Linked DNA regions of Homo sapiens: all the other regions are linked to region 1. Evidence: fine-mapped QTL for protein levels in blood plasma. A gene starts in region 1. Each other region holds a variant in brackets. All regions are shown on one strand. Distances are from middle to middle.

The links. A credible set is the group of variants that fine-mapping cannot tell apart. PIP is the chance, under the fine-mapping model, that this variant and not a neighbour inherited with it causes the effect. Protein levels are from the aptamer-based SomaScan assay of Sun 2018.
Region 2: its variant is the best candidate, but not a certain one, in a credible set for the plasma level of the CRISP2 protein (Sun 2018, PIP 0.69). The variant lies in the coding sequence of CRISP2. If it changes the protein, the assay may bind it differently, which can mimic a change of level.
Region 3: its variant is the best candidate, but not a certain one, in a credible set for the plasma level of the CRISP2 protein (Sun 2018, PIP 0.76).
Region 4: its variant is the best candidate, but not a certain one, in a credible set for the plasma level of the CRISP2 protein (Sun 2018, PIP 0.73).

Annotation. Positions count from the first base shown.
Region 1 is chr6:49,710,160-49,718,271 of GRCh38, forward strand. CRISP2 (cysteine rich secretory protein 2) reads right to left here and starts at 3,384. Exons shown (of 10, transcript NM_003296.4): 1 at 3,316-3,384; 2 at 2,342-2,445; 3 at 1,126-1,162.
Region 2 is chr6:49,692,298-49,700,409 of GRCh38, forward strand. It overlaps CRISP2 (cysteine rich secretory protein 2), which reads right to left. Exons shown (of 10, transcript NM_003296.4): 6 at 7,507-7,594; 7 at 6,065-6,210; 8 at 5,563-5,660; 9 at 3,539-3,627; 10 at 62-603. The coding sequence ends at 476. Among named protein-coding and RNA genes, the nearest start is that of CRISP2, 17 kb to the right of the region's middle. RefSeq lists a silencer at 1,345-1,545. The variant A/G (reference allele first, on the strand shown) is at 3,557.
Region 3 is chr6:49,673,285-49,681,396 of GRCh38, forward strand. It overlaps a transcript of CRISP2 not described here. Among named protein-coding and RNA genes, the nearest start is that of CRISP2, 36 kb to the right of the region's middle. The variant T/C (reference allele first, on the strand shown) is at 3,713.
Region 4 is chr6:49,735,388-49,743,499 of GRCh38, forward strand. It overlaps CRISP3 (cysteine rich secretory protein 3), which reads right to left. Exons shown (of 8, transcript NM_006061.4): 2 at 1,938-2,011; 3 at 1,004-1,120; 4 at 117-204. Among named protein-coding and RNA genes, the nearest start is that of CRISP3, 4.9 kb to the right of the region's middle. The variant G/A (reference allele first, on the strand shown) is at 7,005.

The DNA of each region.
Region 1 (8,112 bases):
TTACTGTAAATAGTGTATCATTGATACTTGTTCCATCCATTGCCTTTATGCTCAATTATGTGCAAAAAAGGGATGAGGGATGAACAATTATTGACGGTTCATGGAAAATGATATACAATTTCACTCCCATACCTTACTGGGTATTACTATTTATATTGTATGGATGATGTAATTGAGGCTTAAGACAGTTAATTAACCTATGCCAATGCTACGTTCTTAGGTAATGTCAGAAATTAGTCTTCATCCAATTATGACTTCGAAGTCAATGACTTTGAAAGAGACATTGACTCATTGAAAGAGACACAGTTTTAATTGGGAAAAGGCAGACATTGTTGCAGCACAATGGAGACCCTTTATTTTTACTTTAATAATTCCCTTATTAATACATAACTGTATATGTTAATAGTAAAATCATTAATATGCCAGCTTATACAATATACTTAAACAGCCATACTTTTCCATTTTCCTATTAAAGGTAGTTCTAGTATAATTGTCTCAAGTCACAAACATGAGAATTAATTCCATTACTTATTTTTAGAATAAAATGTAAAAAATTTTTACATATCAAATTTTTTTGTGTGTGTGCGTAATATTGCTGTAATTTACCTTCTTAACTGTAAAAGAATAAAATTAACTTGAGGTCATTCTCAATACAAATTTATTAAAGTTTTGAAAATCATGGATAGGCCAGGCACAGTGGCTCATTCCTATAATCCTAACATTTTGGGAGACTGAGGTGAGAGCACATAACTTGAGCCCAGGAGTTCAAGATCAGCCTGGAAAGCACAGTGAGACCTCATCTCTACTAAAAACAAACAAACAAAAACAAAACATAATTAGCTGGGCATGGTGGCAAGTGCCTGTAGTCCCAGCTACTCAGGAGGCTGAGGTGGGATGATCATTTGAGCCTAGGAGTTTGAGGCAGCAGTGAACTATGATCACAGCACTGCATTCCAGCCTGGGTGACAGAAAGAGACCCTGTCTCTAAAACAAACAAACAAACAGACAAACAAAAAACAAAAAAATAAAATCATGGGCAAACTCATTAATCATTTTACCCTTGACAACATAAAAATGATTGGCATGATAAAATATTCACATTAAAATCAATGATTTAACACTTACTGTTGGTTTTCTGAGCAGGATGAAATATCTACTTTATCTTTAGAAAGAAAGAAGGTGGAAGGTTTAGAGCAGCATATATATTACACATATTCCTGTTTTGTCAAACTCTGGTTTTGTTAAATAAATCTAAGTCAACAAAGTTCTGAAGTAGTATTTTTCATACCAGTAACCTTAAACTTCATTGTCAGTTGTCTGATAATGCTTTTGACATTATTTGCTTCCCACATAGTTTTTAACATGAGTAAGTAAATCATGCCCTCCCTTTCTAATCAGTTCTCCCTTCTCCTTAGGCACACGATAATCTGCATGTGGCCTTTTTGGACTAGTATTTCTATATTGACAACCCAAGACAGGTTAACTACTGTGAAGGTTACCAGGATTCTGCCTTATAGCTGAACTCTCATAGTTCAGCTGTCTATGATTTTTACTTTCTAATTATCAACTACCTGTAGCTTATTGGTTACGGGTGCATTCTTTGGAAACCATCAGGTCTGGGAAATCTATGCCAAGCTTCAGTGTTTTTCTTATGTAAAATGTAGATTTTTATATCACAGGTTTTTGCTTTGAAGACTGGAAGGGACAATGTATGTAACACCTCTAATACAATAAACACATTATGCACATAATACAAATAAACGGAAATTATTCATGTTTTTATTATCTTTTGCAATGTCTGCTAGTTTGTTGAGCTCATAAGAGCTTTCTATAAACATATGCTGTTTGATTGAATTGCTAATTACTAAGTGTTTAAGAGACATGTGTTTCCTTCCAGGTGTTATAGGAAAATACAATCAGTATAATCTAATTCGAGATTCACATGTTCAAGGCCTGGTTCTATTAGACACCTTCTGGCTGACTTTAGGAAAATGCTCTAACATCTGGGCTGTTGTATCCTCATCAGCTCATTGAAAGCCATACACAGGAGCCTGAAGAGTTTTGTATAGCTCAATCACCCAGTGTATGCATCTGATGAGCCAGAATTCTATAATAGGCCATGATGCCATACTCTCCTCTTTGCTGCTCTTCTCTCTCATAACCTCAACCATCTAACCTATACTCATCTTCATTGAGTCAATGAAAGCAATGTCACTGTTGGTGAGAGTATATTCAAGGAAAAATATTTTTTTCTATTCCATATAATTACATTTTATTCCTTTAAACCCATATTGATATATAGTTGAAAAGTTGGCTACCATTTTTTTTCTTTGCTACTTACTAATGGTGAAGTACTGTGCTCTTTCTTGCAGGTGTTTTAAGATCAGGATGACATGGTTTTCCTAGAGTGTCTTTAGGAGGGCCATGGTGTATAATTTTATAACCCTAGAACAAGGAAACAAAATATTTAAAATAAAGATGTGAAGAATACCCTTATAGATGGTATCTATAATCTTTGTCACAAACTTAAATTTTGACTCAATTGTTTAGTATTGTTTCTAATAATTTACTGTATTTATTTGATTTCAGCGTTAAGACCATATTGTCCTTCTGAGGTCAGATTGTATTTCAACGCCCTGATATTTCCTTCAAACACTAACAAAAAAGTGGACTTCTTGAAGTTCAGTAACTACTAGTTGGCTAACTTGCTTGGAAAATTGCAACCTTTTTTCAAGACTCCCAACCCCTTATCTAGGACTTCAACCCATTCTTTAAAAGATCATTTCCATAAGCAGTGTCCCACATGGTAAGTATTAACTACGTGGATTTGGGGGTAACAGCTTTGTCTCTTCATTTTTTTTTTAAATTCTGGAAGCCAATAGATGATATAAAGTCCAGCAGAGTCAATGACCCCAACTCTAATTGTTATTACAGTTTCTAATAACTGTACATTCAAAACATCAATTAGAAACTAAGAGTCTTAATTTGACTTCGTAAAAAGCAGATTGAGAAATGACTTCAGGCTTCTACTATGATTCAATGGGTCTTATGTACTTAGAATGATTTCTCTTTTAAGGTAGGTAAAGAGTTTCAATAGACTAAACATAGAGAAGCATGTTGAAAGTTATGGTAGGTCGGCGCTAAGCAACAAAATTGAACTCTCAGTCTGCCCGGCATTAGCTATGTGCCCTCCAGATGCCGGAAGAGGAGCGAAGGAGGATCAGAAACCCCCTCACCTCAACGATGGTTCTCTCCCCTGTGCTTCACCCCACCTCCCCGTCCCTAGCCATTTCTAGTCTCCAATCCGGGTCTTACATTTACCCTGGCTCCAGAGCACAGACCTTCCTGCAGTTGGGCCGGCGCGTTGCGGCGTTGAGGAGCTGCGGCGCGCCCCTCTCACCGCGATTGTTCACTTGCCAGGCGCCACGTGTGGGCGACGTCACTGGGCTTTATGCTTTCATCGCCGCTATCTGCCTACGTGAGCTGCTCTCCTCCCATCGCCCCCGCCTCCCCTACTACGGAGAAAATCTTGCACGTTTTCCCTTGTGAAAAGCAGAGTTCTCTTTTTCTCATTACCACCAGTTGATGAGGAAAGAAAATGTCTGTTCGCATACCTGCGCCGTACTAGGAGGAGGAGGGAGGTCATATAAGGATTCGGGTTGCCCAGGGGGTGGCTTGAAAAAGGAGGCGTTCGCATTCAAACAAGAATGCCTGAATTAATGTAGTTCAATTTAAAGAGCTAATTAGGAGTCCACAGGTGCTTAAGTTTGCAGTGCGCTGCCAGTGTCATGCCAACGACGCACTCCAGTTACACAGGTTGTCAGTTTCAGGCTCCCTCATAAACACTTCATGTTCTTGTCCCTCTTCCCCGTTGGCAACAGTTTTATGGTGAGAAAATTCACGAAGAGTAACAGGAACAACTCTTATGAAAATACGCAGAACTCCTGACCCAAGGCTACTGGCTGCAAGTTTAGCATACGTATCAAGCATGGGTTAAAGACATGTTTTCTCTCTCAGAAGGCGGATGAGTAATAGGTGCATTTTCTTCTATTCACAGTTGTTTTCAAAGCGAAAAGGAGTGAATTCGCTTATGACCTAGAGGAAGAGAGATGGGTCAAAAGATGTCAAGCCAAGGATTAATATCCGTCATACCTTGGTTCTCTGTAAGCCATGCAATAAGAGGCTTGAGATTTCACCAACTCTGGAGACTCACTTGGGCACAACTGAAACTATAACAAACTTGGTGCTCAGTGCCATTTTCCTTTGGCAGTGTTACAAGGTAATTTCAAGGGATCAGCACACAGACATTGTTTTAGTTTTCTTTTGCTGCTTATTTCAGTTCATGCAGCACTGACTAAAAATTTTGGAATTTAGACTGCTTAACGCTTATATCTACATCCAATATCAAAATTCATTACTGACAGTTTGCCTTTCTAAATATTTATGAAATCTAGTCCTCAATCTGTCCCTCACTTCTATATTCATGTTTTCACCATATCTTGCTTAAGTTATTAATTGGACATTTCAAATACCTATATGCACAAAATCTCTGCCTACCTATTTGTTCTTTCTTTCTAGTGCCGAACAATTCATTCTCAGCACTATAATAGTCTATCATTTACTGTGAATATCTTATTTTTCATTTTTGGAGAAGAGTCATTCCTGTAATTATTACTTGTTCCCATATTCACATTGATGATATCAGAATGAGAGCAACTTGAGCGCTGTGGTGCCAGATATTGTTGGTGAACCTGAATTTCAGAAATTGGCTATGTCTGTCTTGATTATTGCTGTATCTCCAAAACTAACACAATACCAAATATAGGTGGTAGTTTGTAAATATTTGTTAAGTGAGTAAATATTGACCCGACATAGATTCTTAGAAAATACAGAAAAAAGGACATAAAATCTCTTTCTTCTAAGACTCATAGTACTATGAGAGAAAGGAGTATGTATATGAATAAGTAAAGAATACTATTAGGTAGTGTAGTTTAATGCTAAGTAGGGCGACCAAAAATATATACAGTAATTGAGAGTTCTGTGAGTTGATATGATCTGGGTAAAACCTAGGAAAGTTTTGACATTTGAACTGTTATTGAATAATGCGTATGGCTTGATTTGAAGGGAGAAAGAGTTGAAGAACAAAAGCAGATAAATCATTATATCACAAGGCATATTCAAGACAGAAAGACTGTTGAAAAGGTTGGGGAAACTTTGTATAGAAGTCTAAGGAGATTTGCTTCTCTGTATAACATGGGAAAGTAATTTCATTGACATTTTGGAGGGTTGGGAAATTCTTTGATCAAAAGAATGTTTCATAAAAGCCACCTGATCTCACTGCATGGGGTGATTTACAGAGCTGAGAAATTGATGGCAGCAAAAATAAGTGTGGTAACAATTCCCCAGATTAATTTTGTAGTAGTAGAAATAGGACAAAAGGGTGGAATATGAAGAGATTTTTAAAAAGTGTTGATAGATTTTGTATGAAGGGCAAATCCAGAATAGAAGACTTGTAAGTTTGGTGCCTGAATGTGTTGGAGAGCACATGGAAAGTAGATCTCCATTACTGAGAGGAATAGTACAGGTACTTCTAAGAACATTGCCAGGAGTCCTTTGCTTTTCTAGAAGGGCATCATTTGTTAGTTCCTTTTTCTATGGTTTGGAGTAAAAGAAGCAATGATTAGAAATGCATTCCTCATAGTAGGCTCTATAGCAGATTCTACTGTATAGGATATAGTTAAATACCAGACTTTAAATTCTCTTGTGAAAATTATGATAGAATTGGCTGAATAGAGAAGTATCTGTGCAGCTGCTGGCACTTGTGGCCTATGGAGAAATACATCAGATGAAGACTATAGAGATTTAGCTGTAGAGGATAAATGAAGAGATTGCTTAGTTAAGTAAGTAGACTCTTTAGCTCATTTTTTGATCTATTTAATTTTAGGTGGTTTGGTTTATGGGTAACCTGGGTAAAGAGCATACTCCAAACTCTTGGTATTATCCTCCCGATAGTCATAATAATAGTTTCCCTGGTACACTGTATTCTCTCAAAGGTTTTAAGTGCTTCCACGCAGCCATTGCTAGAATGTCAAATGGTCTCTCTTCAATTAGAATGACAAGAGCTGAAAGAAATGTGTGACCATGAGGACACCATAACCTATGAATGATGTGGTGAGACCAGAAACCCGAAATAATGGTAACTGAGAGTGGTGCTAAGGCCCTAAGTTTTGGTCACACTCTCACCTAAGTGAGAACCTTATCAAAAAGGGGGGAATTTTCTTTTTAAGCAAAAGCATAGGAGGCAATTGTTTTGGACTGAGTTCATGCACTAGGCCCCAAAAGACCAAACCAAACCAAACCAAAACAGAGTCGCTTGTGCTAAGACATTAAGGAAACACATAGATCCTAGAAAAGACCAGGTTTTGTTTTTCTCCTGCAAATTTCCATAACAAACATTGCTGAAAGAATAGGTATCCACCCCCTAAAATTCCCATTAAATCTTTAACCCAATTCATTTCCTCTCGCCTAGAGACGATTAAGCTTTAGATGATCATGTGACAAGGGTTCCAGCCAGTTCCAGGTGAAGATGCCTCCCCTGGCCATCAAGGAGCTACCCTTCCTTCACTAGAGAGAGCAAGGCAAGAGGTCTGTGATCCCCACACCAGTCATAAAGCATTTACAGAAGAAAGACCATCGGTTGTTCCACCTCCCATAAAGACTTATGGAGATCACATCTTTCAGGGGGAAATTGAGGCAGGAGAATAGGGCCTAGAGGCAGAGAACGAAAGGACTTTCTAGAACTAAATCAAGGGGAAACACTTCTTCTAGAAACACTGTATTGGTACAGAAAAAATTTCTCAAGTGAGCATGTGTACAACTCCATTAAACACACTGTGCATGAGGCTGCTCCCAAGTGCTAGCAGGCTACTGCACATGCAGATGGCCTAATCCAAGGGAAGAGTAATGCAAGACCCTGGAAGTATGCCAACATATAAAACCCCAAGTCAAAAGGTCAAATTGTTAGAGGAAAGAATGGCTACTCCATAGGCAGAGCAGCCCCAAGGGCTGCTGGTTGCCAATTTTTATGGTTATTCTGATTATATACGAAACAAAGGGTGGATTTTTCATGTCTCCCCTTTGTAGACCATATAGGGTAACTTCGTGACATTGCCATGGCATTTGTAAACTGTCACAACCCTTGTGGAAGTGTAGCAGTGAGGACGACCAGCAGTCACTCTTGTTGCCATCTTGGTTTTGGTAGGTTTTAGCTGACTTGTTTACTGCAAACTGTTTTACAAGAAAGGTCTTTATGACCTGTATTTTGTGCCAAACTCCTATCTTATCCTTTTACTTAGAATGCCTTAACTGTCTGGGAATGCAGCCCAGTAGGTCTCAGCCTCATTTTACCCAGCCCCTATTTAAGATGGAGTTGCTCCGGTTCACATTCCTCTGACATTTCTCCTCTCCCTTTTATAAAAGAACCCTTAATCCTAACAGTTGCAGAAGGATGAAGATTCATCTTCTTTAACTTCTTCAGGCTGAATGGGGCAATGATATTTCTGTGTAACTATTAGGGTCTCTTGTGTTCAGGGTACAGAGGAGTTCAGTCAGAATGCATTAGTATGATGAAGGCCATTCATAACTCTTAAGTTCCAAGAAAAGGTGATATCTGGAAGATTTTTTTAAAAAGTTGAGTAAGTTTATCCTCTATTCCTACACAAAGAGCACAACAGCAAGATATTTTAAAACAGTAAAGCAGAATAAGCAAAATTGTCCTAAGTTAACTAAATTAGAAGGCTTTCCATGAATTGGGCAACTATTGAAACCAAGCTGATATGGGGTCACTAGCTGATTCCAGTGTGCCCAGAATTGGAATATTGATTCATATTTTTACATTACCCATTCCTTTATTTTCTTCTGAGCAGCAGCCAGAGATTGCTGGTTGGTTCACAGGAATAAGCAGGGTTAGTCTAAATTGCAGAAAAAAACTCAAAACAACTGATGAGACTAGAATCTAAGAGCAAGTACACCATAGTTCTTGAAACATAATTCTCTCTCCAGTTTCCCATTTTTACAAAGGACAAATAATGGTAAAACTGACTTGCTTTACTA
Region 2 (8,112 bases), 18 kb before region 1:
AAAAGTTCTTTGTTCGAAAAGCTGATTACTTTTGTTTAAAAGAAAGGTCATTAAGACAACGGCAGATGTAAAGCTTTGAATTTATTGTTTATGCAAGTAAAAACTCAGGTAGTAGGAATGGCAATGATGTTACAGTCTTCTTCTTTAGCATGTTTCAGGAAATACGTAATGCACCATTTTGATCCAAAGTCCTAGTGACCTAAATCCTATGGTTATACAGTTTTCAAAATCCTCAACCTGATTCAGTTCGTTATAAAGCACTAAATTTATGTCAGAGTTCACAGTTGTCATCATCTACTATGCTACTTTTGTAAATCATTGCCTGAAAGTGATTTCTGTGATGATCTGGGGGAGAAGATGCATTGCTCTTTGAAATCAAATTTGTCACTAACATACATACAATTTCCACTGGTATGTCGCAATTAAATGATGCAGCCCTTATCCATGCAGTCTTGCACAATGCTCACTAGGTAAATCAGTAAATTTTGTTCTCACATAGGCAAGTAGCCTTGCACTTTTCCTTGAGTAACTCATGTTCACAGCCAGCTGTATTCTTCAAGGAATCACAGTTACTTAGGAGATCTTGATACTGGCAACTATTGGCTGTAACAAAAACAGATTAGTTAACTCATTATCGTTTTCCTCAGTAAGAGCAAAACCATACATTCAAAGTGTGTGGGGAGGGGGTAGGAGGGAACAAACAAGTTAGCATCGCTTACACTACAATGGGTCTTTCATGTCTTTATGGCTGCATAGTATTCCATGGTGTATATGTGCCACATTTTCTTAATCCAGTCTATCTGGATCCAGGGACATATGAGGTGTCTTAGTTGAGCTCACTGATAAATCCATCACTCTTTAAATTCCACATTTAGTGATATGTTTCTAAAATAAATTGACCTATTTTTCCCCCTCAGCAAGCAGAATAATATGAATGTAATTAAATCTTTCTATGCCTGCACAGCCAAATATGGGAGCCATTAGCCACACAGAGGTATTTAAATTAAAATTAAAATTTTGGTTTCTTAATCTTGTTAGCCACATTTCAAGTGTTCAAAGTGTGATTAGTAGCACATGTTGATAGAGACTCTTTCCATCATATCATAATATTGGGCAGCATGGCATTACACTCCAATGCTTTTTTTGAGTAAATAATCTTTATGGGTGGATAAAAGTGTAAAACAAGGACAATACGCCCTTTTCCTTTTGATGTTTCTACTTGGATGTTCCCTAGGGACCTCAAACTCAATAAAACTCAAATTAAACTCCTTGTATTAGCTAAAAGGCTGACAATTCTCAGCAGTGATCTCCCTGCACCACCCACAATCTAAGGGAAATGAAGAAAGTTCATTCTTTTTCCTTCTCTTTTTCATATAGCCTGTCTTCAAGCTCACTGATTCTTCTGTTTAATGAATTCTGCTGTTGAGACCATCTAATGTTTTTTTCAGTTTATTTATCGTATTTTTCAGCTTCAGGATTTCTGTTTTTCTAAATGTCAATCTCTTCTTCAAATTTCTCTGATAAATTTCTAAATTGTTTCTCTGTGTTTTATTGAAGTTTGTTGGGCTTCCTCCAAACAGCTATTTTGAATTCTGTACCCTAAAGATTACACATTTCCATCTTTCGAGGGCTGGTCACTGGTACTTTACTTAGTTCTCTTGATGAGGTCATATTTTCCTGAATGTTCTTGAAACTTGTGGATTACTATCTCAATATCTAGGCACTAAAGAATTAATTATCCTAGTCTTTGCAGTCTGGGCTTGTTTGTACCTGTTTTTCTTCAGAAGGCCTTCCAAGAATTTAAAGGAGCGAATAAGTCTCCTAAGATGGCAGTTATTTCATTATTAGATGATGTTCTAAACCCAGGTTTGCTGCAAACTTGGTTACGAGAAGGGTGACATGGACAATTCCCTGGATGCCACAGCTGGCACTGTGCCTTGATGCATCTGAAGCCCATGGACTCTCAGACCAGGACAGAACCAGGGCTTGCCCAAGGCCAGCAGCTGTTATGACTTTCCAGCTACTACAATTCATTTGGGGTCTGAGGCCATTTTAGTTGACCAGTAGTACTGGGACTTGAGTCTGTCCCACTGGGGCAGTGGATTCCTTTTTGGTGCTATGGTGGGTCTAGAGGCCCACCAATCTGGATACCAATCTGCATACCAATCTGGATTTAGGAGCTGTGGGTTTCTTACTGGTGTGTGTTTTGTTGTGGCAGGCTCAGTACTAAATCCAAGGCAGAGTACCCCACACACTTCCTTCTCTTTCCCCCAAGTGGACAGTGTCTCTCTCCCCTCTGTGTTACCTAGGGTTTATGAGAGGGGTGATGCAGGCAATCCCATGGACACAGCAGCTGATACCAGCTGATACCATGACAGATGAATTCCAGACTTGTTAGCAAATAGCATTCAGCAAAATGTATAAGTATTCAACTATTTTTTTCTTTTTTTTTTTTTTGAGACAGTCTCGCTCTGTTGCCCTGGCTGGAGTGCAGTGGCCGAACTCGGCTCACTGCAATCTCCGCCTCCTGGGTTCAAGCGATTCTCCTGCCTCAGCCTCCTGAGTAGCTGGGACTACAGGCATCCACCACCACACCTGGCTCATTTTTGTATTTTTAGTAGAGATGCAGTTTCACCGTATTGGCCAGGTTGGTCTCGAACTCCTGACCTTGTGATCCGCCCACCTCTGCCTGATTTATAGCTTTGGTATCATTAATATTCTGAAATATAGCTATATAACTGAGTCAGAAAAAATGCTTAGTAAAGGTGAATGCATTGAAGAGGTAAAAATTTCAGTGATGGTGTCAACTTTATCATTCATAATAATTTTAATAAAAGTATCCCAACTACAGAAAGCCAGCAGCTATTTTTACTTCTATTCATGGCAATTTATTAAATGAGATATATGGTATTTATTTCATTTTCTCCTTTTGCAAAAATATGTGCACAGTTTCTATGAGCCAATATTGTATATAGATTGAGTTTTGTCATAAAAATGTACACAAAACAATTATGAAATTATAGGGCAAGTAATCATTTATTAAGGCAAACACTATGATCCTAATTATACTATAAAAAAGAAGTGAGGAAATCAGCATGACAAACACATTAGCACAAATAAACAGTAATATTTGGCGTGCCTGTCTAGACTGAGCCATAATGTGGTCTCACACTTTAGATTTATACATTTTGATTCCTTTAAAATACCACTTTTGGTATAGTGATATGAACTTTGAGAATTGAACTATTTACCAAAATGGTATATGGTTAATATTAAATGGCTCTGAAGAGCCACAAAAACACATTGATGATAAATATTCCATTATGTTACATACGGCAATATGCTTTTCATTACAAATAATATGTAGCTCCTGCAGTGTGTAAAATGTTTGTTTAAGCATACTTTGTTGAATAATTTTGGGTTTTTTCACCAATACATTATTTCAATTCATTACGTTAGGAGATTTGTTAAATTATATAAAGAAAAGATAATATCAATTCTATAATAAATAATAGCAAGCTAATCACTTCAAACTTACTGCATAGTCCTTTGTCAC[A/G]GTCATCAGGGCAACCGGCACAAGGTGTTCCTTGTTGGTACGGGGTATTCTTTCTATTCATATTATTACCACTGAAATTTGAAATACATGTCAAATATTTTTCACTTTACTGTTTATACTCTAAGGGCAGTATCAGTCATCAAATATACATAAATAGTTATTCAGGGTTTTTAGTATGTTAACAAAACTGAAAAATTACAATTCCCAATGTGTATTTCAGATAACAATCCAAATTAAGAAAATGCTTCACACATGGACATATCTTCTTGACCATAATTTCACAGGCTGGGTAACTAAATTTGATGACAAGAGTCTGAAATTTTGAGAGTATATTCAGTGTGGCAACACTATCTTTATCTCCCATTATATTTAGTCAAATTACTAAGGCAGTGTACCCCAAGGTGCCAATTAGGGGTAAAACATCCTGTAGAGGGAAAGGAGAAGATCCTAGGAGTAGCAGGTTGTGGCAGGAAATGAATATGCAATGTTAAAATATCATTTTCCATTTGAAAAATGGAAAAAACTCCATAGTATCTCTAACAGAAACTATGAAAAATATAGCTCCAGAGTATTTTTTTCTTCCAGATGGAGGTTGCGATTTTTCAGTAGTTAGTGGTGTGTGTGTTTGTAGGAGTGTGCTTAGGAAGGTTTGTGAGCTTCTAGAGGTGGCATGTATGAGATTTTTACATTTACCAAAATGGAATATTAGTTTTTGTTATCCCAGAACTTAAAGTAAAAAAAAAAAAAAGAAAAAAAGATTAAAGAAAAGTTTTGATAAATACTGATATCCAGGATATAATAGTTTTGCAATGATTAACCATAGGATAATGATGATCATTATTCTATTGGCCATTAAATTCATTTAAAATTATGTGGGAGTCCAAATCTCAATAGACCAAGTGGGGTAAGGACCCAAGGAAGTGCAGCTGAATCTCAGTCTCTTTGCCTAGAATATAGCTGTGTGTGTATGAGCTCTTGGAAAATTGTGAAACAGATATAAAAGGATTTTAAAAGTTCTAGTTCCCTTGGCTTCCCTCATGATCTATTCCAACTGTCACTTCTGACACCTGGCTGCTGATGCTTCCCTCTGAGGGCCAGTAAGTGAGTTTGGATACATTCTCCCAGGGCCTTTCAATTCTCTCTACTTGAATCCTAATAGGTACTTTAAAGAAAATGACTTTGGAGGTTATACTTCTCAAACTGGAATCGTACATCATCTTCGCTATCTACAGTCTCGAAACAAATCCTGTAGCTGTGCCCCCCACCGCAGCCTCCAGTAGTAAAGAATTTCAAACACTAAATTTGATATTGTGAATATCTTCTTAAAATATCCATAGGATTTATTGTGGATAACTCTAAACATATTGTTTAATGAAGAAGCATGTTTACTGCTACAAATCAAACCTTACAAGATGGTTAAAGAGCTTTCTGTGAACAATTCTGAGAATCAGAGACTTAAGATGTTATCTTTTCTGTATTCTGAAATAAAGATGTCCTGAAAAGCCATTGAAATCCAAATGAATGAATAATTTGTAATGGTAATTGTGTGTGGTGGTGTGTGTGTGTGTGTGTTTTACATAAGCAGAAGTAGGAATATTTGAGCAGAAAGGGCCAAAATCACAATCCATCTTCCATTTGCAATCTCACCAGCACCCTAAAGCATCTATACTCCTAGAGTATGAAATTAGCAAGATGTGATGATACCAATTCTAGAGAAATACATATTACACATGCTCACAGAGTAACCCTAAGCTGAGGGAAGGCCAATTGAAAGAAAAGACATTATTCTGTTAATGAGGAATGAGAGCTTCAGTTTTTATACCTGAAAGTGAGAAGTTGTTCTCCTCTGAGAAGTTGAAAGTGTCTCAACCTTAAAAAACATTTCCAAACGTTTATCCCCTCCCTTTTATTGAGATATGTTTTCATTCTGGTTTAAGATATGAGAATTATTAAAAAATAAATTGCAGATAGAATTATTGCCATTAAACTCTAAACAGTCTACTTACGCAGGACAATATTGGCAAACATAGTAGTATTTTAGACTATCTTGATTGGGACAGTAGGCAATTCCACAGCCTACCTGGTAAGTCGAGTACCAAACAAGCTGCAAATTAACAATGGAATAAATATATAAAAGTACATTAGAGAAGATGAAAAATATTTAAAAAAGTAGCAAATATAAAACTGAAAAATGTTAGTTTTATAGACATATACCATAAAAATATTTAAATTATTGAACCAAAGTCATAAACTTTAAAAATATTTAATTTTCATGTACATTCATCACTTTAAAATTTATAATGTAGGAACAATACAGAGTCTGCTTTCCTACTAAGAGTTTGGCTGACCATGGACAAAAATGACAGCTCTACAACAGCCAAATGCCAAGACTGTATTCTACCCACTCGGACTGTTCTCCTAAATTGAACATTACAGTGGTCATAATTTGGAGAAGCTTTCCTCTATTAGAACATCTGTGACATAGGTATTTTCATGCATTCTTCTTACCTGAGTATAATGTCCAACAACTGCATTGGGACTCTTTGGTCCTACACCATAGACAAAATCTAGGATCTCGTCATACCAGCTTTGGATTGCAGAAGACCAGGAAGTAGGGTCACTTGACATATAGAGATTCTCACCACATCTTGTACCTAAGGGGCAGATCATTCATGAGCAAGGTAATAAACATGCAATGGTAAAAGAAATTGACTACACAAACACAAAGATGTTGCCTTTCAAACCCAGGGTCCAGCAGATGCTAACTGTTGATTAATACATAAAGGAGTGCCTCAGTTCCTTATCAGCTATAAAGCTGATTAGAACACTTAACTGCCTGACACACTGAGGTTGGCCTGACCACATAAAACTTTGAGTAGGTTAACACTCTGCTCCTTAAAAATGCCCTTGCATGCTAAATTTTCCACATGTGTATGCCTTGAGTGTTCCCAGCTGTATATGGTAAGCTTGCTAAAGGCAGTGACCAACTCTTATATTCTGTTTTCTGCTCTAGTAACCCTCAACAGAGATTTTTCAAATATAGGACCCCAAATAAATGTATAAGACTTTGTGTGAAATCTGAAAAAAAGACTTTATAGGCTGTCTTTAAGAGTCCCAATCAAGAGAAAACTGACACCAGGAAGGATAACAGTTTTCAAAATTTATGGGTTTTCTCTTAACCAGGAAATCAGATATCACAAGCTGAAATCCTTGTGAGTTTGTCAAGAAGTGCCTTACAGCCCAGAAACACTTCATAAATTATTTGGGCATTTACTAGTTTTTATAATCCTTGATATGTCTTTTTAAAACTCGAATATAGTATTCTGTGCATTGTAGGTATCCAGTCCACACAAAATACTTGCTAGTCTGATATTAAAAATTAATATATTAATATATTCAAAAATATTCATTTTTATAGAAATTTTGAATACGATAAATTTAAATCCACTTTATCCACTTTTATCCACTTTAGAGCAAAACTTAGGAATAATTCATCATAAGTTCAATATATTTTATGGATACAAAAAATAGATTTCAAAACATCAGACAGCTACATAAATTAACAAAAAGGGCAGTGGGTTAGAAATCAGAAAGCTTGGTTAAAAATTTCTAGTATGACACTGTTTCAGATTATGTTCTTGGGTAAGTCACTTTTCTTTCAAATTCTGGCTTTCTAATCTTTAAACTTACAAAAAGAAAGATGATATAAAATCTGCTGTACTCATGAGCTGGTTGCAAGAAGCAAAATTATTTGCATAATGTACACAATAAAAAAACACAAAATTGTTCTTATTGTAAATACCCCTCTGTATACAGATACTTTGACTTCAAAAAGACAGCAGTATAAGTAACATTTATTTTCAAAGTCTTCTTATTATAGAGCATCCTACAATGCTCTATTATTATTTTATTCATTTATTTATTCAACAAATATTTACTAATTTACATACTGGTTTTGCGGTCCTCTGGATCACTATGTTGTAAAGTGCACTTGTTTGCCCACCTTTGGGCATTCGTTGTTACCTCTCTGCTCCATTCCTAAACGTCACAAGAAAACAAAATACACTTAATGATTCAGCCACAATGAAACATACACTTTATAATCTGATTTGTAAATACTTTAAAATTTCTGTAGATGTATTCTCTAATACTACTGTTATTAAAATGTTTTTAAGTGTTTTTATCTCTTCTGGTGCCAGTTTACACATGATGGGTAGTCCATAGGTAATATATCTAAAAAGCAAAATAAGACAATAATATGTGATTATTTATGATAGCAAAGCAGCCATACCTAGGATATTTATTAATGATGCTAGTCTAAATATTGATAAGCATGTGAAATATTCTAATTATATTTTAATAGTAATAAGATGGCCAACGTTATTTCCAATTCCATTTGTTTTCATATGTAAGCCATTGCTTTCATATCGGAGATACCAGTCTTTCAGGGACTGTGCCCTGGGAAGTGGGCTTTTACTCACAACAGCTGACACATATCCTGAAGGAAGGGGGATTTCTTGATTGTAAACCAGAAAAGAGAATTAACAAAAAGTGTA
Region 3 (8,112 bases), 37 kb before region 1:
ATACAGGGAGGGGAACATCCCACACCAGGGCCAGTCAGAGGGTGCGGGTCTGGTGGAGGGATAGCATTAGGAGAAATACCTAATGTAAATGATGAGTTGATGGGTGCAGCAAATCAACATGACACACGTATACCTATGTAACAAACCTGCATGTTGTGCACATGTACTCTAGAACTTAAAGTATAATAAAAGAAAAAAAAAACTTTTTGTGTGTGTTGGCTTTGCTTGCATATACAACTTCTGTTGAAAACACCCTACCTTGGATCACCAAAGTGTCCCCTTAACGACTTGAAATCATTAGGTGTTATATTAAATATAGGCCGACATCTTAGAACATAATAATAATGTAAGAGTGAATATGTTTAAAATGTAATGCAATTACTAAAAATATAATTTTAAAAAATGGAAGGGTCACATGTTCATGGATGGCCTAGTTTATTAATGCTAGACCATTATTTGTAAGAGCTGTGACTACATGTAATAATTAGTCTCATAGAAGAAAGAAGCCCATTGCTTCTTGGCTCCCATGGCGCCATGGTTGTGTTTTCTAGGAAGTCTGAGGCAGCAGGATACTGAACCCCATGCCTGTCCTGTTAGATCAGTTAACATGGATCGGTGACCTTTCTTTTTGTCCTTTAACTAGACAGGGACACCTCAGTTTCTCAGAATCAGTAGAATGTTGAACATACTCACTAACCCATCTGGTTCTCTGCCATCAGTCTTGTGCCCTGTCTAAAGTGTTGAAAGGCTATATTGCTTCACCCTTGAGTTAAAGATCTTATTTTTTTTGAAGTCTGGCCTAGGGAGGCTGGGAGATGACATTAAATCTGTTTTATTCATTCCATGCTGCTGTGTAAAAATCCACTCACTGAAAAGATAAATATCTTGCTCTTTGTTTCATGTTTAAAATTACAGGTTTTTAAATAAGATTATAACATAATGTTCAGGTAAATCTAATATATGGAGGAAGACAGAATCAACAGGACCACAGAGAAGATAATCTGGTGACTTGATGATATTGAAAAGTTTTGGCTCCAACAGTGTGCCCACTTTGGGACTTTTTAGTCGTACGAAGTCAGAAAAAGCTCCTGGTTTGTTTAAGTCATTTGGAATTAAGTTTTCTGATTTTTATAACAAGAGAGCATTAATATATCTATGTAGTTAATTGGGAGCTTACATAAAAGATGATATTTTGAAATTGTACACTCTGATGAGTAAGATTAAAATTCACATTTATAGACTATCTATTACAGATCTTGGATTTGGCATGCATGTATTAAAAGCAAGTTATGTTCTAGGTGTTGGTGACATCAAGAGGAAAATAAAACATCATATCACTCCTTTGAGAGATAAAGCAGAAAAGCCTGGAGTACTACAGCAAGAAGAAACTACTTATTCTTACTATGCCATCTGATAGGGACTCTGATATGGTTTTGTTCTGTGCTCCCACCCAAATCTCATCTAGAATTGTAATCCCATTGTGTTGAGGGAGGAACCTGTAATTCCCATGTGTCGAGGAAGGGAAGTGATTGGATTATGACGCAGTTTCCCCCTTGCTGTTTACATGATAGTGGGTGAATTATCACAAGATCTGATGATTTAATAAATGGTAGTTTTTCCTGCATGCTCACACTCTCTACTGGCACTTTGTGAAGAAGGTGCCTGCCTCCCATTCTGCAATGATTGTAAGTTTTCTGAGCCCTTTCCAGTCATGAGGAACTTTGAGTCAATTAAATCTCTTTTCTTTATAAACTATCCAGTCTTGGTTACTTCTTTATAAAAGTGTGAGAAAGGATTAATACAGACTCCCAAATTGTTGCATTGGGAACTATTGGGAAGGGGAAAAGGTTGGGAATAGAGTTTATAACCAATTTATGAAAGATCATAATATTTCCAGTTAAATGCTGTATTCTATAGGAAAGATAATGTTTTGGAGGATTTTTAAGCAGAAAAGAAACACTTAATAAGTTATGACCCAGGAAGAATAGTTTGGTAGCAGTGTACATGATGAATTGAATTGGTGGAGATAAGACATTCATAATTAGTAGACAGGGAATACAGTTTAATGAGATTTGCAGATGGCTCTCAGATTCTTACAAATCCAATCTTTTCCCTTGTTTCAAGAATTTGTAATAGGTCATGGTTTTCAAGTATTTTCTCTTAAGTCATATTTTATTAAAAACTCCCATATATAATCATACTTTAGAAAATAATATCTTCATGTAGTCTAAGCAAAATAATAATGATGTCTAATGTTTGCATGTTTACCATCACAAAATATTCAGAAATATAATGTTGTGACATTACAAGATTCTGAAGTAATGGGGCAGGAATTTTTATTTTCTCACTTAGAAAACTACGACTCAGAGAGTTAAGTGATTATATTATATGATGTGTGAATTCACATAATGGAAGCAGATGTAGATTGTTATTCTCTAGAGCTTTTTGTTTATTCATATGGTGTCACAGGAGGCAGAACTGGACTAGTGCCTACTTTTTTCCACCAAACAAAACAAAATTAATTTAGTTTTTCACCTACTTTGTCACCTTGATTTAGTGACCTGAATGTATACAAAACCAAAGTCTTTTTCTCTACTTTTTTTTTTTTTTTTTTTTTTTGAGACAGGGTCTTGCTCTATTACCCAGGCTAGTGTGTAGTGGCATGATCTTGGCTCACTGCAGCCTTGACTTTCCAGGCTTAAGTGATAATCCCATCTCAGCCTCCTGAGTAGCTGGGGCTACAGCTGTCCACCATCATGCCTGGCTAATTTTATTATTATTATTGTTCTTAGTAGAGATGAGGTCTCACTATGTTACCCGGACTGGCCTCAAAATCATGGGCTCAAGTGATCCTCCCACTTTGGCCTTCCAAACTGCTGGCTCTGCCCTGTTAACCTTGACTTTAAGATTATTTGTTATCCCTGACAGCTGCAGTTCAATAAAAAATTTGGCAAGTCAGCACCCTAACTCATCACTTCAAGTTGCCAATAAAGATGATAAACTGAATTTGCATCCTTATTAGTAATGATCACCTCCAGTAAATGGAGATCTTCATTTTGGAAGATAACATAAAATCTATCCACATTGTTTTAATATATTGAGACTAGTATCTTCTATAAAGTCTAATCAGCATTTACAAGACATATTAGTGTCAATATATATTCAATATATTTTTAAATGAAAGACTATATTGTGTTTGCCAGAGCTAGGCATAATCTGCTGGTTATCCAGTCTGTGTACAATCATAAATATAAATTTTGTATATCAATGTCCACAGTTGCCTTTTAATTTCTGTGTTTGTGTTACAGGACTGCCAGGTTTGTATGCTCATTGTGCAGCAATGGACCAATACACTGAGGCAGCAGGGTTTACAGCCGAGAATGAGTTTAATAATCACAAGGCCTTTGAACTAGGAAATGAGAGGAAATCTCAAGCCACAAATTTGCTCCATGAAGGGGTCCTTTAAGGAGACTGTGGAGGATGAGAAGCTGAAAAATTTGGATTGTTGATTGGTCAGGGTAAGGGGGATGTAATCATCAGGATGTTGAAACTGCATTCCTCCATGAGTCAGTTTCTTGCTAGGTCGTTCAGAGCAGCTGGCATCACTAGTTTTGTTGGTATGTGGAACCTAAAGAATAAATTCAAAAGCAAAGATTATCATCTCACAATGCCTTAGATTTTATCTATGGAACAGAAAAGGAACAAAAAGTCT[T/C]GTGACAAGGGCTACCTTATACTGGGGTAGTAAGCAGTGACCAGTTACAAGGAAGAGGACGAAAGGGCAAGCTGGCTTAATGATTAGTGCTGATTGTGCTGCCAGCTTAGGTGAGCTTTATTGTTTTCCTTAATCAACTTTGGCAGCACCACTGGTGTAGTGGTAATCATGCAAGAGTCTCTTAATCAATTTTATAAAGTTATCTTGGCGATGGTTTCATTCTTGTTGATCAAATGTATTGTGATACGTTCTTTCCATTAAGTTTTTAGATATTTTTACTTTGTCTTTCAAATTTACATGCCCCAAGCATTTAGGATATCAACTTACCATATTGAAATAAAAAACACTGTATTAACGAGAGAGTGAGAACATGGCATTCAACTAAACTTTTATGATTCCTTGTATTTATTATGTTTCAAAGGGAAGTTGGCTCTTATTCCTTCCTCCCATAGAGTTGATGTTTCTTGTTTACCAAAGGAGCACGGATGACAACTATTCTCTTCTTTGTTTTTGGTAGATTGAAGGGCAGGTAGTGTTCTTTCACATACACTTACAGCAGGAAATACATTAAGGATTTCTTTGGCAATATGAGTAGCTTCTTATAATGTCCATCTCACAAAATACAGTCCTGTGGGAATTATTGTTTTCATTCCTTATTTCCTTATGTATCTATTCATTAAATTATTACTCAATAGCTAACGTCAAGTGGAGTACTGGGTGCAGGATACTAAACAGAGGACTAGCTAAACACACAGCAAGCTTAATAATGAATAAACATACACTTAAGGAAGTCTAGGGAAAGCCTGAAAGACAATTTTTTAAAGGACTGGAACTTTATAAGGAAATAGGTAATGAAGGCAAATATAATTATAGTGGATACATAAGAAATAATGGTATTCAATTGTAAATTCTTGATATGATCACTGATACTGGAGTTAGAGAAACTGGGTTTAGGATCAATGTTAGACTTGCAACTCCTACTAAAGATCTCTGCAACCTCCTCTGCTGGAGTTCCAGTGTTTCTGTCTCTCAGAGTGAAGGGCCATGGAACCTCAGAAGGACTTCTGAGCTCTGAGATAACATACTTGCAGGGTGAGTACATCCAAAGAACTGCATTCAGAATTATAAAACAAAAATAATATCTAAAATAGAATACTAGAAAGGTGTTCAGAAACAATTCAACACAACAAGTATACCCTGAACATCAGTATGGATCTACAGGGTGCTAAGCGCTTTAGCGGGCACTAGAGAAAAATCATCTATTACTCCAAATAGCTTATATAAACTGATTGGGTTGATGAGGCATGCACAGTTCACATGAGCAGTGTTGTGTCCCCATTTCAGCATGGGTCCACATTCCAAGAAATGCCATTCTAACTCTAGAGGCTTAAATAAACTCCAATTGCTTTTCTACAGTGTATGGTTTTTCTATAAAACTTGGGAGAAAAAATTTCCATCTTATTACACTTTCCCAGACGAATCTGTACAATGGAGACAAAAGAAAGTTATTTATAACCAGTGCAACTTGCTGTCTCATCTCTTAACTAGTTCCCCCCGACTCCCTGGCTTTCTGTTTCTCCGGTGGGATTGGGATATTTGTAATTGCAGAGAGTGTAAATGTGATAGCATCGGGATTTAAATTGAAGGAGGTAAAGAGCATCTCTAGCCTGATGCACTCATGTGTTTTACCATTAGAACTAGTCTTTGCCCACACGCTTCTGATCACTGTACACTAAGCAGGAGCAGCATCAAGTTGATACTGTCTCATTTGAATTCCTCCTACAAAGGTCTTTCACCTGAAAAAGAGGTTAGGTGGCCACTTAATATTCCACAGTGCCAAAAACAAAGCAAGCATAAGAATGTCCCTGACTCCTCAAAATGATCGTAGCTACTTATGTCTGTTGTATGCCACAGAATTGGTGTCCCAGTTGGCTCTGTGGGATGTCCTAATGAATGGGACAATTTTAATACACTTTGCCTCCCTATCACTATACTTCAGACACCAGTTCAAGTATTCTGTTAACATTTAATATCAGAATAAAATATAATGTTCTGCTTATGTTCTGCACAATGCACTTTAGAATGAGACTTTTATTGAGTGAACATTTTCCTATAAAGGCAATTTAGATTTGCATGAACACATTGGTAGTCTTATCATACTGTTGTCATAAGTCATTTTTGCACTTAAAAAAGCTCTAAGTCTTTGTCATATGAGATACTTATGCACCAAGTATTGCTCAACTTGTTCTTTTACAATTGATTTTTAACCTAAATTCCATCTTAGTTACTACTGCATTCTAGCTTTTGATGTTTGCCACCCTTGAGTCTGTCAGTTAAGGTACAGTATTAGCCACCTGTTCAAGATTAGGATGATTCTGTTCACCTTTAAGGACTCCTCTTTTTATCATGACAAGTTATTTAGAAAGCTAAGCAATGTGATAAAAATGTTGTTTTTTGAACTTAAAATGAGAGCAAAGGGAAATGGTTTTGAGAGGAATTTTATTCAGCTCACAATAAGGTTAATGGAAGAGTCCTGTCCTGGGTGGAATATTCTCCCCTAATGACTGCACTGGAGTCTGTCAAATTTGGTGTCTGCCTTCCATATTCCATGCCTTAGGTCAGTCAATCACAAATTTTCATAGTTAGAACACACATTGCTGAATCTTACCCCAGTTTCTGATTCAGTGTTGTTGTTTTTTTTTGACATTTATTTATTTATTTATTTTTGAGACGGAGTATTACTCTATCACCTAGACTGGAATGCAGTGGCACGATCTTGGCTCACTGCAACCTCTGCCTGCTGGGTTCAAGGGATTCTTGTGCCTCAGCCTCCCAAGTAGCTGGAATTACAGGCATGTGCCACCATGCCCAGCTCATTTTTGTATTTTTAGTAGAGACAGGTTTTCACGATGTTGGTCAGGTTGGTCTCGAACTCCTGACCTCAGGTGATCCACCAGCTGTGGCCTTCCAAAGTGCTGGGATTACAGGTGTGAGCCACTGCACCCAGCCGACTTTTATTTTAAATTAAGGGTATATGTGCAGGTTTGTTACATAGGTAAAGTTGTATCATAGCAGTTTGTTGTACAGATTATTTCATCACCCAGGTATTAGGCCTAGTATCCATCAGTTATTTTTCCTGATCCTCTCCCTCCTGCATCCTCCACCCTCTGATAAGTTCCAGTGTGTGTTGTTCCCCTGTATGTGTCCATGAGTTCTCATCATTTAGCTCCCACTTATAAGTGAGAATATGTGGTGTTTGGTTTTCTGTTTCTGTGTTAGTTTCCTAATGATAATGGCCTCCAGCTCTATCCATGTTCCTGCATAGGACATGATCTCATTCTTTTTTATGGCTGCATAATATTCTATGGTGTATATGTACCACATTTTCTTTTTTCCAGTCTATCATTGATGGGCATTTAGGTTGATTCCATGTCTTTGCTATTGTGAATAGTGCTGCAATTAACATATATGTGCACGTGTCTTTATGATAGAACAACTCATATTCCTTTGGGTATATACCCAGTAATGGGATTGCTGAGTTGAATGGTATTTATGACTTTAGGTCTTTGAGGAATTGCCACACTGTCATCTACAATGGCTGAACTAATTTACACTCTCACCAACAGTGTATAAGCATTCCTTTTCTCCACAACCTTGCCAACATCTGTTATTTTTTGACTTTTTAATAACAGCTATTCTGACTGGTGTGAGACGGTCTCTCATTGTGGTTTTGATTTGCATTTCTCTAATGATCCGTGATGTTGAACTTTTTTGGTATGATTGTTGGTTGCATGAATGTCTTCTTTTGAAAAGTGTCTGTTCATATCCTTTTCCCACTTTTTAATGAGGTTTTATTTTTTCTTGTAAATTTAAGTTTCCTGTAGATGCTAGATATTAGACCTTTGTCAGATGCATAGTTTGCAAAAATTGTCACCCATTATGTAGGTTGTCTGTTTAATTGTTGATAATTTCTTATGCTGTACAGAAACTCTTTAGTTTAATCAGATCCCATTTGTTAATTTATGTTTTTGTTGCAATTGCTTTTGGCATCTTCATTATGAAATCTTTGCCCATGCCTATGCCCTAAATGGTATTTCCTAAGTTGTCTTCCAGAGTTTTTATAGTTTTGGGTTTTACATTTAAGTGTTTAATCCATCTTGAGTTAATTTTTATATATGGTCTAATGAAGGGGTCCAGTTTTAATCTTCTACATGTGGTTAGTCAGTTACCCCAGCACCATTTATTGAATAGGGAGTCCTTTCCCCATTGCTTGTTTTTGTCAGATTTCTCAGAGATCAGATAGTTGTAGGTGTGCTGTCTTAATTCTGGGTTCTCTATTCTGTTCCACTGGTCTGTTTATCTGTTTTTGTACTTACCAGTATCATGCTGTTTTGGTTACT
Region 4 (8,112 bases), 25 kb after region 1:
AAAAAGGTAGCATTAGAAGCAATATTTATTTACAAACTTTTCTTAATGCAACATCATAACATGGTTTATTATTTTACTTGTTGATTTATTCAACAAATATTTCCTAATTTACATACTTGTCATTCGATCCTTTGGGTTACTGTGTCTGTAATTGCACTGGTTTGCCCACTTTTGGGCATTTGCTGCAGCCTCTTTGTTCCATTCCTGAAACAAGGACAGAAAAAAGATATCCACTTAATGTCTCAAACCTCAAAGGAGCATAAGCTTTATAATCAGGTTATAGGTTGATTTACATCATCATAAAATTTCTGTACAAGCATCTTCTGATTTTTATAGTAATCAAATGTATATATTTTTTATGTGCTTTTATCTGCTCCACAAAGAAATATAGGTAATATGCCTACCCTAAGTAATCAAAAAATCTAGGTTTATGGTCCAATTATTTATCACAGGACATCAGAAACACCTAAAGATTTTTTGTAATGGTCCTGTTCTAAATATTGATAAACATGTGGAGGTGCTGAGATTGCTTTTCCAACAATGAAGTAATTAGCTGGCTTACTTCATTTCCAGTTCTTTTTTTCTTTTTTTCCCCCTCACTGAATATGTTCGGGAGACATGTGGCCTTTGGTACAGGGCCCAGAAAAGTAGATTGTTATTTACCCTACATGGCATTTATCTTAAAAGGAAAAGGTCTTTCTGATCTCAGATTAGGACAGATAAGATAAGGAGCAGAAAAACATAATGGCTTTTCACCGTATGTCCAAAGATTAGGTTTTAATTCTGCCTCCATAATTTAAATAGCCCTATGAATTTGACGTTATGCAACCATTATAAAGAGAAGTTAAGAAATTCAGCTCTGCCCATTACACAGCTCAAATGAAACAAAAAAATACAGAGAGAACTTTGTAAACTTCAAAGTTATTAAGAGATATTAGTTGCCAGCCGCCTACTCCTTCCACAGCTTGTTCACACCCCTCTCCTTTGCAATATCACCTCTTACCATCTTCAGCATGTTTCTGGCAGGGGGAGATACTGCTCTCCTCAGTTCATTGTGCTTATTCACAATCTCCCTTTGCACTTGTGTTTGGGTGGTTAACAAAGCAGTAAAAGCGGGATCCTAAGGGAAAATAAAATTACAATTATCTTTTAACATTGTTGGAAATTGCACATAATAGTAACTATGTTAGTTCAAGGGAACAAAGACCATTTTTAAAAAGTGTTGCCAATGCTAGGTAAACATTGTCAATGACTGCCAAAGCTATGACTTTTTAATGGAAAAGTATTAGATGAAAGTTTTCAGAATGGGGATATAATTCATGGCATGACAAACTAAAATCTCCTCTGAGGCCACAAATACCAATTTCTGGGTTAAGAGAGGTCTTAATGTGATTTTTCTAAATATATGAGTGATAACATCTTATAGTGACAAGGGTACATGATAGTAATTATTAAGACATTCACACTCAGGCTGCAGCAAAGAAGTTGTAAAGATTGAGGCATATGATTTACCCTAAGACTCTAGGGGGAATTTCTGCCTGAAATGGTGTCTGGTATTTAGAAAAAATGCTTAGGCTCAGCCTAAGTGCATGTGTAACATGCAATACTCTAGTAAAAGAGTTTTATGTATTACGTAGCAAATATTATGGGATCACTCAAAAGATAGTTTTACCACATTAAAAAAAATCTCCAAGGCAATTTGCGGGGTGGAGCAAAGTCATTTAATTAATGAACTTCAATACCCTCATGTGGCTAGGGGCTACCATATTGATCACCACAGCTTTAAACATAATTATGTTAACTACCTTGAGCTACTAATGAGTACTTTATGATGTACCAGACACTCTAGACCTTTTCACTTTTGAAGATTGATCTAGTAGCTTGCCATCCCTCATGGTTGCCTGAATTTTTCTGAAGATTTTTGACTTCAACCATACCTTATCTTCATTTGCTGGAAAAGATGGAAGCAGCCCAGCAACCAGGAACAACAGCACTGGGAATAATGTCATTGCTGGGAAAACAAAACCGGTGGAACAGGGATCTGCATTAAAATGATTGGTACATGCTGTTGAGTAACATGGGGGTGGGAGAAACGTAATGACCTCCATTATCCCAAATTCATTATTAATGTAACAGGAGAAGACTTGTCACATGGAGCCAGCAGAATGACAGTGGATTCAGCTTTCAAAGTATGCATTCAACTGGGACTATAAAGAACAAACCAAAATTCCCGACTGAAGCCCTTGAAGCATGCCTATAAATGCTAAGGACTTTCTACCTCCTTCTTCCGCAGCTCCGCAGTCTTCTCTGTGTAACTACTGTCTTTAGGTTGTAGGAGTGGATTCTTCACAATAACAATTCAGTAGCTTCCAACTGTGTTTATTACTGGGATACTACTGCATTAGCCCTTGCTGATTTCCTTAAGTGCTGTCTACACTTTTATAAATATAACCTTATTAACATTTCTTCAAATTAAAAGTTAGCATGTGCCAGTTCTTTTCCGTCAGGGATCTGGCTCATATACTTGCCATTCTTCAAACCCTAGAAAGTCCTCTACGTATATGCTTTTTATGCATACCTTTAAACTACTCTCTTCAAGTTTACCCATGCAGCCAGCATCCTAACTCCTTTCCTCTCAAAACTTTCTTTAATACCATGCCTCAAATTTAAAAAGGCAACATTTTTTTCCTCTGGATCTTAAAACAAAAAGGTAATAATTTGATTCTCATGTTTAAGGGATTACTCACCCTATCTGTATTAATATCCTTAATATGTTCACATTCTTTATCTCACTAATTCAACTTCTTAGAATTCTACTGAAATTATAAACTATACTAAAAAGTTTTAAGCATAAAATTTTCATCATGTTATCATTTATAAGGGTTAAAACATTGTAAATTAATTACATGCCTAGCAATAGGGAGATATAATGTCTAAGTAAATGAGAATACATCCTCTTATGGCAGTATATTAGACATAAAAACCACTATACATTTATGGTTGTTTTGTAACCTCAGAGAAGAAGCTTATGCTTCAGTGTTAAGTTTAAAAACAAGAAAGCAGAACAAATAGTATATGGTAGATCCTTAGCCTTCTGATTTGGACTGAACGTTAATAGAAGTAGTGACTCATCCTACAAAAGCTCTTCCTTCTTAGTTATTCACTGGTTCCTCCTGAACCTCAGCTCTGGGGGCTGGGACTGGGTCTCCCTTAGACTATGAACTTAGCTAACACCAAATCCCCACAGAACTCCCAGAGGAAGAGCTTTCCACCCCAGACTGGTTCCCAGCACTAAATTCAGCTTTCCTTCTCCTAACCAGCACCTCTGCACCCCACCACCCCGCCCACTGTGAATCTAAGTATTGGGATGCAGCCTGATATACACTTGCAAAACCCATTTTCATGCTATTAAAGTCAATGTCACAAACCATCTCGTCCCAGCATCGCCCCACAATCACCCCGCAAATATGGGACTTTGCTGGTATCCATTTGTATCACTTTTTCAAAGATATTTCCAATGGAAGAACAAGAAAATGGGAGCAGGGGAGATATACTTTTGATAACAAGTGTGGTTTTATTTTGTCCAATGCATTAATAAATACACTTGAAGTCTGAAAAAAAAAAAGAATCCACGAAAAATGATGTTGCCAGAATGCAGATCTGGAGCTCCAGAAGATTTCAAACTACTAGTGTTATAGACCTTGAAACTCACTCAGAAATAACTTAACCTGGCCCTGCTTCCACTTCTAAATCAATATGTTGATGCCCTAACTCCTAGTGTGCTGTATTTAGAGATGGGCCCTCTAGTGCGTCTCCTGCAGAATTTGAGAGCAAAAGAGGAAAAACAGATTCTTATTTTCATTTGTAAGTCAAAGACAATTAGGTATTCTTCTTTCCTTTAGGAGACATTTATCAAGTTTTGTACACTCTATTCAGGATAACATGTTATAATATTGCTGCACATGATCAAGTGAACAAGACTTGGTTCTTGCCCTCAGAGTCCTGGTATATAATTACGGGAGCTCATCATTCAAGTACCCAGAGGGGGAGCTGGTTGAATTTTCTCATGTGTGCAAAAGAGGAGAGTAAAATTTTATTTCCTTTTACAGTGATCCATTCCAATGCTTTATGGAGAGAGATGGGGAAGAATCTAGCACAATTCAGGGCTCAGGGAGTAAACAACTTGAATGAGATAAATATGATAAAGATGTAACATCAGCTTTAAGACCAATAATGGTGACAGAGAGTCGCTGTAATATTTCACTCCATCCCCACCTCTCCTCCCAAGGGACTACTGTAAATAGCAGGTGCAAGTGGAAAATGATTTGTTTGCAATTCCATTTAGTAGTAGCGTCACATAGAAGGTACTAGAAAGAATGAAAAAAAAATAGCCTCTCCTGTCATTCACTTCCATGAAGCAATTTCTAAGTGTATTAGTTATACATTATTTTCTACTATTCCTTGGAAATAAGCAGTAGATTTCTCTTAATTCATTTCACTTGAAAGAGTTATTTTGCTATGTGTAAGTCACTGAGTCCTACCTTTTATATGGTTTTCTGTTCTGTTCTGGTTTTCCTTTTTCAAAGAAATTAATAATTTATCTCAAGTGTGATTAGAGAAAAACCAAGTCCCTGGATTTCAAAGATTTATGATTTCAAATAGTGATGGTTTGCTACTAATTCCAGATCTACAGCAGAGCAAATTGTGTCTTTCTGAAGCATAAATGTATATAATACAATTAAACTGTAACATACTGTGCCTTCTTCACACTGATGTTAGGACCACTGGTATGTTTGAAACACTCCCTTGGAAAAGGAAATCATTTTATCAAATGACCTGATATCACTGCATATTGACTGACAACATATATCTACAAAAACTTCTATAGGCATATCTGGCTTTAACAGTCCATTTTGTGGAAATAAGGATTTGCAAATTAGGAAGTAGGACAAATTTGCTTAGTGCTAAGAGAAGAATTAATCAAATGGTCTATTTATAAAGCAAGCCTTTGGCTTTTATTTCAGGCACAATATCAAAATAAGCAAGCTTCTTGCTGCCACCCCAAAATTAACTCTGAAAAAATTATAGAAGCAAGAGGGAAACAGGGATTCCAAGAAAATACTGAAAAGATAGTGAGAAAATCTGAGGAGAATAAAGTCTCTCATGACTTCTAGAATGTGTATATGGATGTGTGTGTGTGTGTGTGTGTGTGTGTGTGTGTGTGTGTTGTGTATAGTGAATGTGAAGGAGAGGGGAGTGCTGCATCCAACAGCAGTGGTTGGTCTAAAGTAATGCCTGTTAGTTTCTACTCTTGCCTCAAAACAATCGATTCCTCTTTATTTGCAAAATTCTGCAACAACAGAAAAACGCTTGCTCTAGTGCTATGTGTCAGCAAAGTAGCATCGAAGAACTGTAAGACCCATCCTGTGTGGGGCTGGATGCGGTGGCTAATGCCTGTAATCCCAGGACTTTGGGAGGCCGAGGTGAGCAGATCACGAGGTCAAGAGATCGAGACCATCCTGGCTAGCACGGTGAAACCCCATCTCTACTAAAAATACAAAAAATTAGCCGGGCATGGTGGCGAGAGCCTGTAGTCCCAGCTACTCGGGAGGCTGAGGCAGGAGAATGGCGTGAACTCGGGAGGCAGAGCTTGCAGTGAGCCGAGATCGCGCCACTGCCCTGGGCGACAGAGCGAGACTCCGTCTCAAAAAAAACAAAAAACAAAAAACAAACAAACAAAAAAAACAAACAAAAAAAAACCACCAAAAAAAAAAAAACAAAAAACGAAAGTACCATCCTGTGTGAAGAACCAATGATAATAAGGTCATGTGTGATAGCACTCTCCAGTGCTCTTATACTCACGCCTTCTTACTCCCTAGTGTTGTATGGTTCAAATTAGCTTGACTACTTCCTCCCAATGCTGTTTTTTCCTGAAATGTAATCTGAGGAGTGGATATAATTCCGGGATTGACTCATAAAAGACGTAAGAATAATAGTAAATAATACATAAGCCCACTTCATAAATGAATTGCAAGAATCCTAACAAAATATTAACTCATCAATTTCAAAAATATATTAAAAATATCATGACCAAGTAAAATTATATGAGGACTGCAAGAATAATTCAAAATTAGAAAATTCATTGGTAAAATTCATCACATTAACAGACTAAAGCAAAGTAATATGACAAAAAATACGTCATTAAATTCAACCCCTGTATGTAGTTTTTTTTTTTTTTTTTTTTTTTAAAGAAAAAATAGAAGAGATCATTACTTTGGTAGGAAGCATATACTGCAAATCTATACCCAATATAATGGTTATTGGAGAAATTCTAGGTGCATTTCATTTAATATTGGGAACAAGAAAAGAATGACTAACACTTTTATTTAACACAGTACTGGAGAGATCCTAATCAAAGCCATAAGAAAAGAAAGTATATACATATATATATATATAATATATACAAGTAATGTAATGTATACATTTTATGTTATATATAATAATATAAAATATATTATTATATATAAAATATTTGTAACTTTTGTAAGAGAAGACGTAAAATTGTTATTGTTTTCAAATGATAAGATCATCTATCTGGAGAACACACCAAAATTAACAATTTTGCTAGATGCACTATCAACTTACAAAAATACCATTTCTATTACTGGAAACACTCAACTAGAATATAAGATTTAAGAAACACTTATAACAGTTAAAAAAACTATACAGTATCTGGGAAACAACAAAACAAATTTAAAAATCCTTTTTGGAAAAAATCTTAAAACTTTAATAAAGAACATAGCAGAAGTTCTGAATAAATTGAGAGTTTTGTAATGCTTTTAAATGGTACATGTTAGCATAAAGATATCAATCCTAAACTAACCTGATAATTGTTTACTTTAATTCCAATACAAATTTTAAGTGGCTTATGAATAACTGAGTAAACTTTTAAAAGAAGAATTGCTTGGGCGCAGTGGCTCATGCCTGTAATCCTAGCACTTTGG[G/A]AGGCCAAGGAGGGTGGGTTGCCTGAGCTCAGGAGTTTGAGACCACCCTGCGTAACATGGTGAAACCTCGTCTCTACTAAAACTACAAAAGTTAGCCGGGCATGGTGGTGCATGTCTGTAATCCCAGCTACTGGGGAGGCTGAGGCAGGAGAATTGCTTGAAACTAGGAGGTGGAGGTTGCAGCGAGCCGAGAGTGTGCCACTGCACTCCAGCCTGGGCGACAGAGCAAGACTCCATCTCAAAAAAAAAAAAAAAAAAAAGGAAGAAGAAAAGAAAAAGAAAAAAAAGAAAGAATTAATTGGGTTATCTTTTCATATTAGTTATTAAGATAGACTTCAAACATTTGTTGACAAAAATTTAATATTATTGTAGGAACAGATAAATCAACTGGTGGAGGAAAATACAAAACTTAAGAGACAGACCAAACATCGTAACATTAAAAAGCAAAGGAGGAAGAACAGACTATAGAAATATTTTAAAGGATTACGTGGATTAGAAAAGATGTCAAAAGCATTAACACATGTGAGTATAATGTGTGCACTATAGGTATAGACACATTTATAAACTAGTCACAGCACAGAAAAGTATTTGATGCAATATTTTCTTACTTAAAATTTAATAGTTAATCTTTATTCTGATCACTTTCTTTCATCTTATTATGTATCTGTGATACAGAAAGCAGCCTATGCCAATATGCAAAGTTTGCAAAACTGCTAGACTTCATCAAGTAAGAAATTCGTAAAGATATCCAAATAAGAATAGCTGTCTTGCATTTCTTGAGAAGCACTTTTTTTTCAAGGATGAATTCCCTCCCTTTTACTTGAATTCAATAAATAACGTAACTGAAATTCATAGCAATTATCAGATTTACATTACTTGAGAATTCTGACACTCTTCCTCCCAATTCATCCCTGCCTGTTACAAATCAGAAGCCCCAATTTACCTCATAACTTATCAATGTAGGGTAACTCCCAGGCTTGAAACTTGTCATCAATTTAATTTCTTTTGATCCACTTTCAGAGGTCTTAGTCATACAGGCAGACATTCTAGATTTGGTTTTAACTAGCAGAAGAGGCAACACCGGATCTTCTATGGCTATTGCAAATAC